2 separate regions of the Homo sapiens genome follow, and region 2 is linked to region 1. Evidence: fine-mapped expression QTL. Tissue or cell type: unexposed skin. Region 1 holds a variant in brackets; the other region holds the start of a gene. All regions are shown on one strand. Distances are from middle to middle.

What was found. PIP is the estimated chance that this variant, and not a neighbour inherited with it, causes the effect.
Region 2: it holds the start of ROBO3, and the variant in region 1 is fine-mapped to the expression of ROBO3 in unexposed skin (GTEx, PIP 0.96).

What each region holds. Positions count from the first base shown.
Region 1 is chr11:124,886,196-124,894,295 of GRCh38, forward strand. ROBO4 (roundabout guidance receptor 4) reads right to left here. Exons shown (of 18, transcript NM_019055.6): 8 at 8,006-8,100; 9 at 7,665-7,850; 10 at 7,493-7,535; 11 at 5,471-5,607; 12 at 5,104-5,367; 13 at 1,538-1,645; 14 at 1,163-1,304; 15 at 782-1,018; 16 at 269-627. LOC107984406 (a long non-coding RNA gene) reads left to right here and starts at 5,604. Exons shown (of 2, transcript XR_001748429.3): 1 at 5,604-5,937. RefSeq lists enhancers at 1-477, 478-991. The variant T/G (reference allele first, on the strand shown) is at 3,553.
Region 2 is chr11:124,862,088-124,870,187 of GRCh38, forward strand. It overlaps ROBO3 (roundabout guidance receptor 3), which reads left to right and starts at 3,345. Exons shown (of 28, transcript NM_022370.4): 1 at 3,345-3,650; 2 at 6,715-7,041; 3 at 7,363-7,520; 4 at 7,861-7,981; 5 at 8,078-8,100. The coding sequence starts at 3,491. RefSeq lists enhancers at 820-1,321, 3,661-4,337, 6,387-6,917.

The sequences.
Region 1 (8,100 bases):
AAGAATTGGACAATTTGTCCTTGTTCTGTGGGTGAACTTGGGCAAGCCAATAAAATTATCTGACTTACAGTTTCCTCATTAGGATAAGAGAGATAAAGAATATTCCACATAGACTTTCAATATTAAATGTATGCAAAGCACTTATCATAGTGCCTGAGATACAATAATCATTCAATAAAACTAGTTGTTTTAACAATGATGACATGATAACAGTTGTTAGAAAGGCAAGGGGCATGAGTGAGGAGTAAGATGGGGAGACCTCACATACCTATGAAGACGCAGTCTGCCTCCCTGGGCTCTAGACCGAAACCAAAGCTATCCACAGCCACTGCCAGGGCCCGGGCAAAGTGAGCATCAGCGAGGAAGGAGCCATCGGAGGAGCTGACAAGGCTGGCTCTGGCGCTGGCGGCATTGTCCTCAGAGGCTGAGCCCCAACCATTGGCTAAGGAGCCCTCGCTGGGGGTGGGGGTGAGGCAGGGCCGAGGTGGGCACAGCAAGACTCCCCCCTTGGGCCCCACCCCTCCTCCAGTCCTGCCCATGTCCGTGAACTCTGAGGCTGTTGGGACGCTGATGTACCCATAGGTGGTGGGGGGTGAAGGAGCCCTTGGCATGGGAGAGACGCTGTTCCTAGGGAGAGGCAAAAGGGGAGACAGCAATGGTTTGGGTGGAATGAGGGTTGTAGTAACAGAAAAGCCCCAGTTGAGGGAGGGCGGAATGGGTGGAGAGGCGCTTGCCCCCACAGCTTTTCTGTAGTTCTTTGGTTATCTCTCAAGCTACTCACCTGGGAGTCTCCTCACCCTCACTGAGTTCCAAGCACAGGGCTACCTCCTCAGGGGTCAGCACGCTGTCTTGATCCTCCCCCAGGGATGACAGTGAGGAGCTGGACAGGCGACTGGAAGCTGGGCTGGGGCCAGAGAGGGAAGAGGCCTGGGGGCTAGGGGGACTGCAGGGGCTAAGGATGGGGATGGGGGCTGCTGGCAGCAGGATGGAGGAGGGAGCCTGTGGTGCCACCGGAGGCCTGATTTGCGGGAGAGAGTGATGGCACCGTAGTTACTACAGCTCTTCAAGTCCTTTCCCCCCTTCCCCAGCCTGTCCAATCCCGGCACACACTCCCCACACCCCCACTCTCCCAGCCCTGCTTCCCGACCCCATGCCCTCTTACTGGGTCTGTTGACTCTGAGTTGGGGGAGTTTCATGAGGAAAGAGGGGTGCTGGAGGGAGATGACGAGTAACCAGCTCATTTGAGGAGCTGAGGAGTTTCGGTCCCAGGGCCCGCCAGGCAACCAGAGCTTGGGGCACAGCTCCTGGGGAAGAGAAGCCTGGGTGTGAGAACAGTGGCATCCCCATCTGCTCTGGAGCTCAGCCTGCCGGCCTGCCCACCAGCCCCCTTAGCTACCTGTCCACTACTCCATCCAACCCTCATCAGCCTCCTCAGGGAAAGGAGGATGAGCCCGTGGGAGGGCCCTGGGCTGGTAAGCCCCTGCATCCCTACACCCTATCTCACCCCTTCACTTCCCTTTCAGGGACCCCCTCTCACCTGGGCTTTGGGAAAGGTTCTTGGAACCTCTATTTCCTAACTCACAGGCCCGGAGCTCCAAGGAGTGGCTGCCCCGGAGCAGTGGGGAACTGTTGGCATGCTGCAGCTCTGCAAAGAAAGGGTTGGTGGTTGTGGGGCCCAGGATGGACTTTTCAGACCCCAGCTGCTGGCTCTATCTTCAGCCTTATTCAATTCAGCCTGCACGACCCTGAACCCAGAGAAAAGAGGGGGAACCCCCTGAATCCCCTCCACACCCCCATCTTCATCCAGCAGCTGTGATAGGGTAGAAGGAGCACTAGGCTTGGGGTCAAAAGACCTGCCCAGCTCAGCTGTGTGACTTCAGGGCAGTCCATGTACCTTTCTGAGTCTCAGTTTCATGTGTAAACAACCACTTCGAATGATGGTCTTGACAATTAAGTAAAAACAGATTGCACAAGTTCTTGGCCTTGATAGATGCTTTAAAAAACAACTTTCTTTTCCTTGACTGTATTCATTCCAATCTTCCTGATCTCTATACCCTCACATTGCTACTCTCATGAATTTTGGCTCAGTAAGAAAAATACTCCTTCTTTTCTTGGACAGAATCTATTAATTTCCATTTCTCACATTGCAAATATCTCACATGGCTCTGGATAGCCCTGCTCTGGGAAACTCGACTGTCTCTCACTTGAAAGATGGGGTAGACTGTCAGGTTGAGCTGAGTGGGTAGGACAAAAACAGGGATCGACACACAATGTTGGCTGTGACAGGAGACAGTCAGCTAATAGGAAGAGGAACTTCAGAGTGGGAAAAGGTATTGGTCTATCCCAGGGACGCAATGCCCTGCCCATACTTTTTGTTGAATGAAAGAGTGAATGCATGGGTGATATCAGAAATGTGGATATAAACACACAGTGAGAAGAGTCACCTAGAAGATGGAAGCTGTCATCTGGCCCACATGGGCAGTGGAGAGACAGGGCTCTGAGTGAACTTTCACAACAGAGAAGCTGGAAACTAAAGAGACAGCCCTAACTATGTGCAATGACCTGTGAGCATGCTTCTTGGTCAGACCAGAATGCAAAAGGGATCTAAGTTTAAGCCAGAGAGGAATAGGGTAATACAGGAGAGAGATTTTTCCAGGAGCAGGAACCTGAAGAACATCAGACAAAGGAGAAAAGAAACAGCCTTTAGATTAGTGTCCCATGACCAGAAGCCCAGCTAGGAAAGAGTTTCCCCTCTTGGTGGACCAGGGACCAGGCAGGACCTTCAGGGTAGAGCTATCTAGTCAGTCACATATCAGAGATCTGGGGGCCACTACGGGCAGCTTCAGAGAAGGGAAGTGAGCCAGGCTTTGGCATTGACCAAGACCCCATTTATGTACTAGTGGCCAGACCTTCTGATCCTTTAGGATGAAAACTCATCAATGACTAGACTCCCTCCGTCAAAGTTTCCTTTGGTACTTTGGCTGTTTGGTTTTTATTGATTTTCTATAGCTTTCATATGACCCAGGTAATCTGGGGAGCCAACTTCAGGGTTGGTGCACCAACTCTGCTATCATCAGCTATGTCTTGTCTGGTGCCTGGCTTCTTGACTAAGCTCAGAAATATGAGCACAAGTTGGTTGGCTGGTTTGAGTGGAAAGGGAAAGAAAACAGCCAGGCCTGGAAAAGGCCACTTTTATCCTAGCCTGTTTCACTTCCTCTAAGGGACTCTGGTAACAAAAGCCCTCCTCCTATGTTGCTTGGAGTTACTTGGACTTTAGTTTCAATTCTAATTGAATAAACTGGACAAGAAAAATGTTATCAAGGTGAAAGGTTGAAACTCATTGGTCAAATTGCAATAAATATTTGTTTGAATAAAATAATGAATGAATGAGGATATTCAGTGCATATATCTGGCAAACTGAGCAGAACTAAGAACCTGCTATGATGGATGAGAGACAGGAGACTGTAATTGTGAGGATATCAGCACTGGAGAAGAAACCCCAACTAAGGCCAAATAATAAGAAAAAGGAACAAGCAGGTCAAGGGGAGTGGG[T/G]GGTACTGGGAGAGCCTGCCAGTTTTAGAAGAGGAAGAAACAGCAGTAGAATCAACTCCATGGGTCTGGAGAAGACCATAGCATGATCTTGTTGCTGCTGAGGTCCTGGGAGGTAGAGGTAGAATATCTAGTGTCTACCAGCCAAGGAGTCGCTGCAGTTGACCTATCCTGGGGGCAGTGGTGAGATGGGGCTGGAGCGAGGAGAAACAGGGAGTGAAGTAAGGACCTAAACCACAGGCTAGGAAGCCTCATCTCAGAATTGGAACCCTTCTTAAGAACTGGCTGTAGAAAACCACTCACCTCTTTCCAGTAGCATTACTGTTCTAAGAGGGGCTATCCATTCCATTAAAGTTGGTGTAGTTCTCCCTGGGAAGGCTGTTTTTTAAATGAGACTATTCCACCTTTTTTTTAGCTGGTGTTTCGTTACCACCAAGGATTTATAATGCAATAGCTCTGAGGCAAAGCTGGTAAGAATGCCAGCTTCGCTGATATTTACAGTCATAAAATTCTGGATATTGAACAAGCTGTTAATTATCTTAATCCATCTTTGTCTTATTAAAAGTTGGATTAAATCCACTTAAAAAAAAGACTTGGCTGTAGAACATTTGTTAGGTCTTACTAATTAGTACAGAAGACTCAAGAAGACAGCAGGTAGATTGCAGGCCAATGTTCTGCAGGCCAGAAATAGGAAAAAATACTCAAAGAGAGAATAGGATTTCCTGAGGGAGCTCCAGAGAGACTCAGAATCACTTCAGAGGCAGACTATCCTGCCTTCAGATTTGAGTCCTGCAGCTAATTACTTGCAGAATTTTGAACCAGTAACTCAATCATTCTGACCCTCTTCCTGTCTGTAAAATTAGAGAAATAGTAGCTAGCCAATCTATTGTGAGGATTAAATGAAATAACAAACATAAGTAAAGCACCTAGTATATAGCAATTGATAAAAAATGGAGGCTATAATTATTTTTCTCTGAAAAGTCTAAGAATGCAGCTGGGAGTCAGGAGATAAACCTGTCCAGAAAGGAAATACCCATTCCTCTCTGAGAAGTGAGTTGGGAGTCGGTGCCCAAGCACACCTGTACATAGTACACCAGGAGATGAGCTCGTGGGAGCCTGAGGCTTTGTGCCAGCACTGGTCACATTCCCCCAGGCTCTAGCATTACTTGTTTGCTAGTCAACACTTTCGTTAGACAGGCCCTGAGCCCTTAGAAGTCAGGGGCTGTGTCTGACGTCTCTTGTGTTCCCCATGTTTGGCATGCAGTGGTGCTTATTAAACGTTTGCTGAGTTGAATTGAGTGCAGAATTAGGGCTCACTGCTGGTGTAGCCAAACTGAAACAAGAGCACAGTGCAAAAAGCTGAGGCTATTGCACCCCTAGCTGAGTGCTCTGGTGGTAGGAGAAAGAGGTCTTGTGTCCACCTGGAGAGGAGAATGGAAGGAGGGTGTGGAGGTTGCACGCCCCTCCAGGCTTTGAGGCCTTGTTCCCATCACATTCCCATTCCTGGGCCCGCCTACCACCAGCTCAGTCTATGTCTATTCTCCCCCTCCTTACCCTGCTTCTTTTTGGCCTTCCAAGCCTCTGCAGGGGCCAGAGACAAGCGGGGAGAAGAGAGTCCCCTGCGGCTGCAGAGGCTGTCTGAGCTGGAACAGGGGCTGGAGAGCTGGGCCAGCTGGGGTGGGAGGCGCCTGACAGCTGGGACCTGGGGACTTGGCCTGGCTGGGGTACTGGAGGGCAGCTCAGCGATGAGGGAGCCATAAAAAGTGCTGGTGTCTGGAAGCAGGGGCACGCCGGGGCTTCGGGAGTCCCAGGAGAGCACTGTGACATAAATGACAGGAGGAATTATGGTGAGCATGTCCTGCTTTCCATCCCTGAGATCACTGCCCCCAGCTAGGCCCTTGCCCCCACTGAGCATGCTCACAGGAGCGACGACAGTCTAGTGGGTCCCGGGCATCCGCCCCCAGCCGACTGCTGAGGCTGCTGCTGCTGCTCAGGTCCCGAGAGCCAGAGGTGGAACGCCAAGTGTCTGCCAACCACTGGGAGTCACTGTGATCCATCCTGGGGCAGTGGAGGGAGGGGGTGAGGCCAGGAGAAACAGGGAGAAGTGAGAACCTTTTTGGCCAAGACTTCCTGTTCAGAGGCAGCAGAAGAGGGCAAGGAGATGGTGGCTTTATCCTTACTACTGCTTTTCAGCTTTTCACAGACTCCTTAAGATCTCTGACCTGGTCCCCTAAACCCAGCACCCCTTTCTTATTCCTGGATGAGGGGAAATCCGAGTCACCCAGAGCTGGGAGGTAGTAATGACAGACAGCTATGTATGCTGAGGTAAAAAGAAGACCTGAAGACAAATCTGGTTTGACAATCTCTATCTGTCACAGCTTAGCTTGGGTAAGTACATCTGTTGCACTTGGGTAAGTACATCCTCTCTAAGCCCCAGTTTTCTCATCTGTAAAATGATGGCAATAGGGCCTTCCACACTCAAGACTGATGGTCTGGGTTTATATGAGGAAATGTGAGATCACTCAGCTGGCAGAGCAGGAGCTTGCTCCATGGATATTGGCCTCTGGCTGCCTGAGTGATCCTTCAAGAACAGGGATCTGAGCAAGGAGCTTCTCTGCGTAAGACCTTCAATGGCCCCTCATTTACCATGATAGAGCCCAGGTACCTAGCATGGCTAAGAGGACCTTCCTTGGTCTGGCTTCCAGCTCCCTAACTATAGCCTTTGCTCTGACCCATCTCACACCCTATACCCGAGCCAGAACAAATGGTTTGTCTTTCCCTGTGGACATAGCAGGCTATTACTTGCTGCTTCATTGCTCTTCTCTCCATCCCCTTCTTACTGTCAGGGTAATGTGGAATCTTCTTTCTCCTATGTTTTTCCACATTGACCCCCTCCATGTGTCTTGTACCTGCTTCTGCGTGGCCAATACAGGATTGCACTCATATCCCCTCATGCCTGTCTCTGCCTACACTGAGAGATTCTGGCAGGTGGAGGCTATTCCAAAGGAAAGAATGAACCAAAGATCAGAAGGAATCTCCCTCAAGGACAGAGCAGGAGATCCTAGGGAAGCCACAGAAAGCTTAAGGCAGAGCAGACAAAGCCAGGAGGTAGCTGGAAGAAAGAAGCCAGTGAGCTCAGAAAACTCAAAACACAACACCAGCCAGCTTGGACCCCTGCTCTGGGCTGAGGACCTGACAGTGAAATGGCAGCTCTAGGCCTGGATTTGCTGGCACATAGTAGGTGCTCAGTAACTTCTGTGGATAGATGCAGACCTGGAGTGGGAAGCCTCCCAGAGGAGATCTAGCGAAATAAAGAGCCAAGAAGGCAGACAGAGAGATGAGGCGGTTACTTAGTACAAAACTCAGACAACGGGAGCAAGAAGGATGTGTTCTCTATCAGCATGATGTCCCAGAACTGCAGACTTGTTCTGGCAGCCGAATATACCGGAAGCAGAAGGGCCCATGGGCAGATCCTGTTTTTGAGAACAGTGAGGAAGAATCTATGATGTAGGCACTGAACACCCTCTGCTGGAGCTGCGGGTGGACTATGATGTAGGCACAATGGCTCAGTGAGAGAATTACTGAGTGCAAAGGCACTACTTGGTAGACCATGGGTGCACGCATAAGATGAGACATTTGAGGTGGTCGTCTCATGCTGATTATTCTCCACCTAGCGGGTGAGGCAGCAGGAGAGGTGGGGTGACAAGAGTCCTGGATTGGGGGTTTAGAAGGTTTTATGAGTTTCAGTTTACTAGTCTGTCAAGTGGTGTGATAGGAATATTAATGACAGAGAAATGAACTATCAGTTGGAGTTACAGGAGAGATTCATGTACGACAGTCCCAAACTCCCTGGCAGGTAGACTAGTACTCCATTCTTCTCTGTTGCAGCTCCACTGTCCCTTGCCACCCTCCCTTACTTCAGACCTCCCCTTTCACCTCTCACCTGTGTTTTAGGATGGCATCCTCACTGGTATATCTGTACAGACCTGGGAGAAGGCAGGAGGAAAGCTAAATCCAGAGGCTGGATCACCTGGTCAGAGATCCAAAGCCCCTGCACCATTCTGGCTGGATGCTGAGGAGGCCTGTATACATGTGGGTCCCCCTCAGACTCTCACCTGGGCCCAGGTGCACCCTAGCTCGGCGCCGGCGGTGGATACACACGGCGGTGCCCAGAAGCAGCAGCCAGAGTGCAACACCGCAGGTGGCAATGACCTCAGGCCGCTTCAAGGTAGCCCTCAGCTGCTCCAGGGTCCAGGGACCATGCTCACTGGGTTCTTGGGTGGCTCGCTCCATGGCCTGCTCTGTATGGGATGCAGAGCTCAGAGGGAGAGGGAGTCGAGGCATTGAGGGCCTGGCAGGCAAGGGGGAAGAGCTGGAAGTGTGAGGCGGGAGCAGGGAGAGAGGAAGGCGGGATGCAGGCTGAAGGGTAGGGTGGGTCTGTGGGCACTGCCCTCACCTAAAAGGAGGCAGACAGGTCTACTGGGCTCCCCAGCTCCAGCACCAGTGACTGCAGCCACTTGCACGCAGTAGGAGCCTGGCATATGGGTGGCG
Region 2 (8,100 bases), 24 kb before region 1:
GCAAATCCACCCACCCAAAATACCACCATAGGAAAGAAATATTCCTCTTCTATATTACCTCATCAACTCCTGGCCCAGGGCTCTTTTCTAGGGCTCTACCTGTGAACCCACACATGCACACACACGCAAACACACACACACACACACACTTCTTCCCATCAGATGCTGTAACCTTATCAGAACAAACTTAGCTCCTAACTCTACAAATTCAACTCGCCCCAACCTCCCTGCTTCCTGCTACTCTCTCTTCTTTCTGCCAAATCTCCTTCAAAACCTCTGTTTCTTTTTCTTACCCTTTCTAAAGTCTGGACTGTACATATTGTTGGTAAAACTCTGGGAAAGAAGTAGTTTCCTGAGGTGGTAGAAGAGAGGGTCTCTAAACCCAACTCTGACTCTTTCTCCAGCCCAAGGTGGAAATTTATAAGTCAACAGAATGAATGCACCCCGGCTGAGGCTCCTCCAATTGCAGGGCATCTACTCAGTGTTTTAGGTGCTGTACAGGCACTTACAGTTGACAAATTAGGAAATGGACATAGTTGCAAAGAGTTGCATACCCACTCCAGAAAAAGGACAAAGAGTTGTCTTGGTAATTTTCAGAGAGCAGAGCAGGCAGTGAGGAGACTAGTAGGAGGCAAACCCCTTTCAGAACTGCCTATGGGGGTAGCCAGGAGAGAAGCTGGATGTGGACAGGGGCAGGGCCAGTTTCTAGGCTGCCTGTCTGACCCTCAGTAAAGAAGAGAAGGTGGGGAGAGGGCTGCAGAAGAGCTGGGAGGTGTGACTTCTGCTGGGCCTTCTCTGCCCACTCTCTGCTCCACTCTGCCTAGCCCAGGGCCGTAAGGACACTAGAGAATGGGAAGGAAAAGGGAGGGAACTTAGGTTATGGTTGGGAGGTATTTATTCTCTGATATCCCCAGTTGGGAGAACTCAGCCCTCTTGGCTTAGATCTGAGTTTGGTTTAAAAGGAGAGTATCATCAAGATAAAGAGAAGTACAAAGAAGGAAAGAGCAGAGAGAAACAAGAAAAAGTGGAGAGTGAAAATTAGAGAGAGCCCAGACGAGGTGAAGTGTAGGAGAGACAGCAGATTCCTGGAAAGTAGAGTGGCCCGGCTATTTGTCCAGCCTCCAAACCCACGTGACAGGGACTGTGAAGCAGCCTTGCTCACGGGTTGAGCCGCGCCTCCGCTCAGGGAACCCTGAGCAAATACGCCCTGATCCCCACATAAAGGGCCAATTAACTGCGCCGTCTCCGGGAACAAATCCGCTAACAGGGTGACAAGCCCCTAGACGCTGGCAGGCCCTGTGTTTGCGGAGAGGCCAGCCGGGAGCAAATCAGGGCATTAGGACCGGGCAGGAGCCGCATGGTGGGAGGGTTTCTGGCCCCCTCCGCCCCAGAGTAGGGCCTGGTACCAGGACGTGGGGTTTCTATCCCGATTCAGCCTCTGCTGTGATGGAACCCAGGTGACCGCGGTCAGCAGGGGGCGGAGCAAAGGGCCCCGGAGCCTCGAATCTCACAGGTCAGAGTAGATCAAGCACTCCAATTCCTCCTTAACAGATGGGAAAACTGAGATCCAAAGCGGTGACGTCTTGTACTTGGCAAACGTAGAATTAGAACCCACTTCTGTGTTGGTCATTCCTGAAGGATAGATTTCGGGTGGGAAATACATCCCTTACTTTCTCTCTTATCTGAATACCACCCTGGAGCGAGGAAGGGAGGGGCGTCAAATCTCTTATTATCTTCTTGCTTTTGAAAGGATGTGTCTCTAGCCCGTCTCCCACCTACCCCAGTCCTCAGCCTCAGGGTCTGCTCGGATTTATGTCTTCCCTGGGGGCTCCAGGGCCCTAGTCAGGCACCTGCAGATGAGGTGCTGAAAAGGACAGCTCCCAGGGCGCTGCGTGGCGGTGGGGTGGGGGGTCCATCCGGCCCCACCCCCACTCCCACCTACCCCCTCCCCCACACCTAGTGCTTCCAGCCTTTCTACGTCCCGCCCAGAACTGCTAGGGTTGGAAGGCACCTAAACACCCATAGTTGGAGGCTCACAGCCAGGCGCCTGGACTGAGGAAGGAGGCTTGGAACAAGCCCCCCACCCCTTGACAATGTCTCGGGTTCCCTTGAACAAGCTCTGCCTGAAATATTTCAATTCTTGATTCTGCTTACTCCAGAGTCTGCGACTGTATAGCACCCACCCCTCTGATCTCGACCCCTTTGGGGTCAGAAGCAGTCGCCCCATGAAAGTTGTCTCATCCCAGAACCTGACGGCTGAGCCAGAACTCTGGCACTGACTCTTCAATCAGCAGGGCCTTACCTCAGGTTAGGAATGCCCCGGCCTCTCTCTTTCCCTGATACCCCAAAGCCATCTCCTGTCTAGGAAAGTGAGTTTGTCGAGGTGGGTCTTCAGGTAGAAAGAACTCCAGAAAAGTCAGAAGCAGACCGCGACTGGAAGTGGGAGGTGGGAGTAGGGGCCCATGGTTTTCTTTTCGCCCCCCCCAGGAAGGACGACTGCTATCCGATTTGAACAGATTTGCACTAATTTTGCAGCAATCCCACATGCCTTTACAAAAATAATATTATCTTTGTTTTTGTCCTAGAATCCTTGGTTCCATTTCAGTCTCCTCAAAAACGTAAAACAATTTAATAAAAAATGTCAAAGCAGGGTAATGTAAAAGGATTCAAATAAATGACAGTTGCCTGGGTTTCCCTGGCTTTCAGTCTCCTACAGGAACTCCTAGATTAGGGCGTTTGGAGCAGGACTCCCGGGTCAGGGCGCGCCGCTCCATCCTCTGGCCTCCTGGCTGCAGACCAAAGGACCAGAGGGCAGAGAGGTGGACCTGTCTTGGAATTCTCTGCCTACTCCCAACTCTTGCTGCAAACCACCCCAGTCTCCTGCCCTTCCGTCGCCAAACCCCTAGACTTGGGAGGGAATGGAAACCAGAACTTTGGCAGCAAGGAGCATTGCTTGCGCTTTGCCTCAGTTTCCAAAAGGTTCGGGAAAAGAGAGGACAGATTCCTGTTCTAAAGTTGGGCAGAAGGGCAGAGTCCGACAGAGCCTCGTCCCTCATCTTGGGTGCTTTGAGACAGGGAAAATCTCTCGCCGCGTCCAGAACGGAACGCTGGGCTTGGGGTGCGGGGCGGGGACTCCAACTCGCGCGCTACGCTACTCGTGTCTCCTGCTCGGATAGTGACTGTAGAGGTAAGGGTGGGAGGGTGGAGGGAGGCGGATTAATCCCTTAATTACGCCGTGATCGGCGTGGCACCTGCTTTCCGCCTGCCCAGCTCCCAGGGGACTCCGGCACTAGGGGGTGGAGAGAAGGACGAGGGAAGGAGGAGGGCACGAAGAGGCACCGACCGTACCCAGGCGCACCGGCAGGAGAGCGGCACCGTGGCTGCCGCAGCGCGCAGAGGCTGTGGAGGGGCTTACGGCTCCCAGCCCACGGGTCTCAGACCCAGGGGCTGGGCCCCCAGCCCCCAGTCCCGATCCCAGCTGGGTCGAGCCATGCTGCGCTACCTGCTGAAAACGCTGCTGCAGATGAACTTGTTCGCGGACTCTCTGGCCGGGGACATCTCCAACTCCAGCGAGCTGCTCTTGGGCTTCAACTCCTCGCTGGCGGCGCTCAACCACACCCTGCTGCCTCCCGGCGATCCCTCTCTCAACGGTGAGACCCTGCCTCTTGGGGATATGGGATCCTGGGATGGGGATGAGGTGAGAGGGCGGCGTGGAAGGGAAGGAGAAGCGCTCCTGTCCCGAGGTCCGGGATTGAGTGGCGCCTCCCAGCGCCTCCCTGGGTCGTGGGGTCTAAGGGATAATTTGGAGCTTCGAGCACATGAGTGGGGGTACCCGCGGGAGGTCGAGGGCTTGGGAGAAGATGGCTACTGAGTCTTTTTACACCTCCTTCCCTTCCCCTACAACGCCCACCCCAGGTGAGAAGAACCGTTGCTGGTAACGGGCAGGGAAGTCCGAGCTAAGAAAGGCCCGGGCCCAGCGCAGGGAGGGCAGAGGAGGGGGCACAGTCTCCCGCCGGCCTCGGCCAAGCCAGGTCACTCGGTGACCCACCCAGGCAGCTGGTCTTCGGAACCCCGAAGTTTCCCAAGAACTCACTTAGGACCAGAGGAAGCCAAAATGCTGGATGTGTTTGCTACGGAGGGGATAGGGGCGGCGATCATTTTAAGGAAACTTAGAAGTTTGTCTTTCAGCGGCGGGACTCTCAGCCGGCCCACCCCGGCAGAGCTGTGGCGGGCGGGCGGAGCTGGCGGCGAGGTCGTTACCGCTAATTACGGTGATTAATAAATGACTGGGACAGCGCGCTCTCCCCTAGCGCCGCGGGGAAGCTGCGGGAGCCGGCCGCCGCCAGCCTGCGGAGAGGCCGGAGCGCGCCCCCTGCCTGCCGCATCGGGAACCCCCGCTTTACCGGGCGCTTTCGCGTGTGGTTCCCTCCAGGTGCACGCGGTCCCCATCCCTCTGCCTCGACCCACTCGAGTCTAGTGACGAGCACTGTGCTGGGGACTCGAAGGTGGAGAGAAAGGAGACCCTGGCAATATGTGTGTGTTCATGTGTGGGGCACATCAGGTGCTGAGGGAGGAGCCCCAGAGCCTCATTAGCATGGCCATTAGCTATTCATTAGGCTGCAGTCGAAGCATCTCCTGAGACCGGGAAGGGTAGAGGGGGAAATTCCAGGGAAAGGGCGCCTGCAGCTGTGTCTACAGGAATTAGGGGGAAAAGGCCGACCAGAAGGGTGTGGTCCGTATAGAAGGATTGGGGAGAAAGACGATGGGGGAGGAGCCCGATTCTCCAACCTCTTGACCCTCCTAGATTTCCAGGAGGTTAAGCACAGATCCCTTCTCGCTGGCACCCCGCAGAGTCCCGCTTCTGCTCACCTAGCGCGTTTACAGAGTGTTTTCACCATACTTTGTCTCATCTAAGCTCGAAACTTAGTGAGGTATGCAAGGAAGGTGTTGACAGACACATTTTGCCGCCGAGAAAACGCTTTATAGAGTGAATGGTGCCCTAATCGTCACAAAAGCAGCATGAAGCAAAACCTAGCGATAACAGATCAGTCCATTTCCATTACACCTGAGGGCTATACCAAGGGGAAAAAAGAATATTGGGGCCTGGTAGAATTTGATTCAGGTAGAGACTGTAGGAGCCAAGATAAGGTGCATATGCTGGGAACACAAGCCCTTAAATAATGGCAGAGTAGTGACGTTTATCCCCCAAGGGCTTTACATACATTATGGTCTTAGAGCAACCCTATCACTGCTCTCACATCACAAAGAAAGAAACTGAGACTGAGAGAAGTTAAATAATTTGCCCAAGTTCTTACAGCTAGGAAGCGTCAAAGTCTGAGATTCCAGCCCTGGTTGGTTCAACAGCAACACTTGCTCTCAATCACTCCAGTGTTGCTCACCACGGGGTGTTCCAAAATTGGGAATGGGAGGAGATGGAGGAGAAGAGAAGGGTGAAAAGCAGAGATTTCCATTTGGAAGGGAGGAGATGGAGAAAATTACTCTCCCAAGTGGGACAGAAATCGATCTTCTTGACTCCAGGCAATTAAAATAAACTCAGAACAGCGCCAGCACGGGTCAGCCTGTCCAGCTTTGTCTACAACAGAACTTCTAAGAGGGGGGGCAGGAAATGAAACCCAATCTCACAGGCGGGCTGGAAGCGGGAGGTTCCTGCAGATTTTGGAACAGGGTAGGAAGGGGGGAACAGGGGGAGGGGGCAGGGGGCAGAACAGATGCTTGAAGTGGTCCCTGGTTATTTTACAGCAGGTTATTAAAGGCTGCAGTGGCACCTACTGGCCGCCACGGGTTACAAATCCACTTTTGTTGGCTGGACTAGGGGCTGAGAGTGCCGGAGTATAACAGGCTCCGGGATCCTAACCGTGCTGCAGAAGGTGAAACAGGCCAAAGTCTGCAGGCCAAGTGACAGGTAGGACAGAATATGTGGATGAACTGATCGGAGTGAACAGGGGAAGTAGAGGAACATCAATCAGTAGAATAATCTATTGGAAACTATGCACCTGTCAGGAAAAGGAGCCTTACTAACATTTCTACTGCTATTTGCGTTCAATTCCTGTGACTTCACAGGACCCTTGAAATGAAGCGTGATTATCCGGGGTGTCAGTAAGAAGGGCCCTGTGCCGATTCATAGAATCCAGGTTGACAAGCCCTTCTAGGCCCGGCCCTGTCACTCCCGTCTTGCCTTTCATAAGGGATCCCAAGCCAGTCCACATTCCCAATTTCACTGAGCCAGGACCTTGCAGAAGTCAAGAACAAACTGTTGGCTCCAGTGCACGGTTTATGGTCTTTCACTGAGCAAGGACGATCCGTGAACCAGTGCAGGTGGAGATGGAAACCACTGGGCAGGAGGCGAGGGAGCGGTCTACTCGCCAAGCGTGGTTCAGCCACTCCCGCTTAAACTTGGCAGGAGAGGAGACGGAGGTCTCTAGGTGGTCCAGAAAGCCGGCCTAGAAGTTTGTGTCCCGATCCCTCTACTAACCGGCCTGTCTGTAGGCATCTTCCTTTGAGACGAGGAACGCGGAACGTCTGCCAATAAGGACATATTGGATCCTGCAGAGGGAGAGGGTAGGCAGGTGGGGACTGAGCTCCGCAGAGAAGCATAGGAGATGGAACGACCAGAGGATTCTCTTTCCCTCTGGAGCCTCAATCTCTCCCCACAATTTCCCTGTCTGAACGCTCTGCGCCACCCCCTGTCCCCAGGGTCAAGGGTAGGACCGGAGGACGCTATGCCCCGCATCGTGGAGCAGCCGCCAGATCTGCTGGTCTCCCGAGGCGAGCCCGCCACGTTGCCCTGCCGCGCTGAAGGCCGACCCCGACCCAACATTGAGTGGTACAAGAACGGGGCGCGTGTGGCCACTGTGCGGGAGGATCCGCGTGCGCACCGCCTGCTGCTGCCCAGCGGCGCCCTCTTCTTCCCGCGCATCGTGCACGGGCGCCGCGCGCGGCCGGACGAAGGTGTCTACACTTGCGTGGCTCGCAACTACCTGGGGGCAGCAGCGAGCAGAAACGCCTCGCTGGAAGTGGCAGGTGAGAGTCAGTTGACCGTCAGCTGGTTGCTTCCAGAGCCTGGGGTAGGCGGGAGGGCACTGGGCAATCAGACCCAGAACCAGCCCCAAAGGACTTCAGCCCACTCAGCATCCTTCTTTGGGACCGCGACCTTTGATCTCTAATGGCCACACCACGGCCAGAGAAGGAAGTGGATCTGACTCCAGGCTGATATTTTCTCACCTGGGAACGAATTCCAGTCTGCAGCGATCAACCCCTTCCCAAGACAACACTTTCCCTGTGTCCTCAGCCAGTTATGTCACTCTACACCCTGCTTATTTCGCCCCCCACCGCCCCGCCCAGTCCTCCGTGATGATTTCCGGCAGTCTCCTGGAAACGTGGTGGTGGCAGTGGGGGAGCCAGCAGTACTGGAATGCGTGCCCCCCCGCGGCCACCCGGAGCCTTCCGTGTCCTGGAGGAAGGACGGTGCAAGACTCAAGGAAGAGGAAGGAAGGATCACGGTGAGGGCGGGATTATGATTGGAGACCCCAACAAGGGAGGGGACATAGGGTAGGGAGGTGACAAGGCTGGAGATTGAGATCAGGGCATTAGCTAACCAGAGACTAAGAGTCAGCTATACAGTGAGGGATAAGGAAGACGGAATTGGTATAAAAAAGGGGCGGGGGCATGATGCCCCAGGAACTTCCCATTTGATATGTGGGTCAACTTCCTTGGTCTCCTTTATCAGCTTGCTGTGAGGATCAAATAAACTTTATACATATGTATATACACATATATTCACCATATATATATACGCTGTGATAGCTGAAATGGACCAAAGTTACCATTATTGCTCTGCAGATCCGTGGAGGGAAGCTGATGATGTCACATACACTCAAGAGCGATGCAGGCATGTATGTGTGCGTAGCCTCCAACATGGCGGGAGAACGGGAGAGTGCGGCAGCTGAAGTCATGGTACTGGGTAGGCACAGGGAATTTTGACATTATGGGAACAGGTAGCCTGCAGAGTAAGTAGCCGTGCAGACACCCTGACTGTTCACTCACTACCACTCCATAGAGCGTCCCTCATTCCTGCGCAGA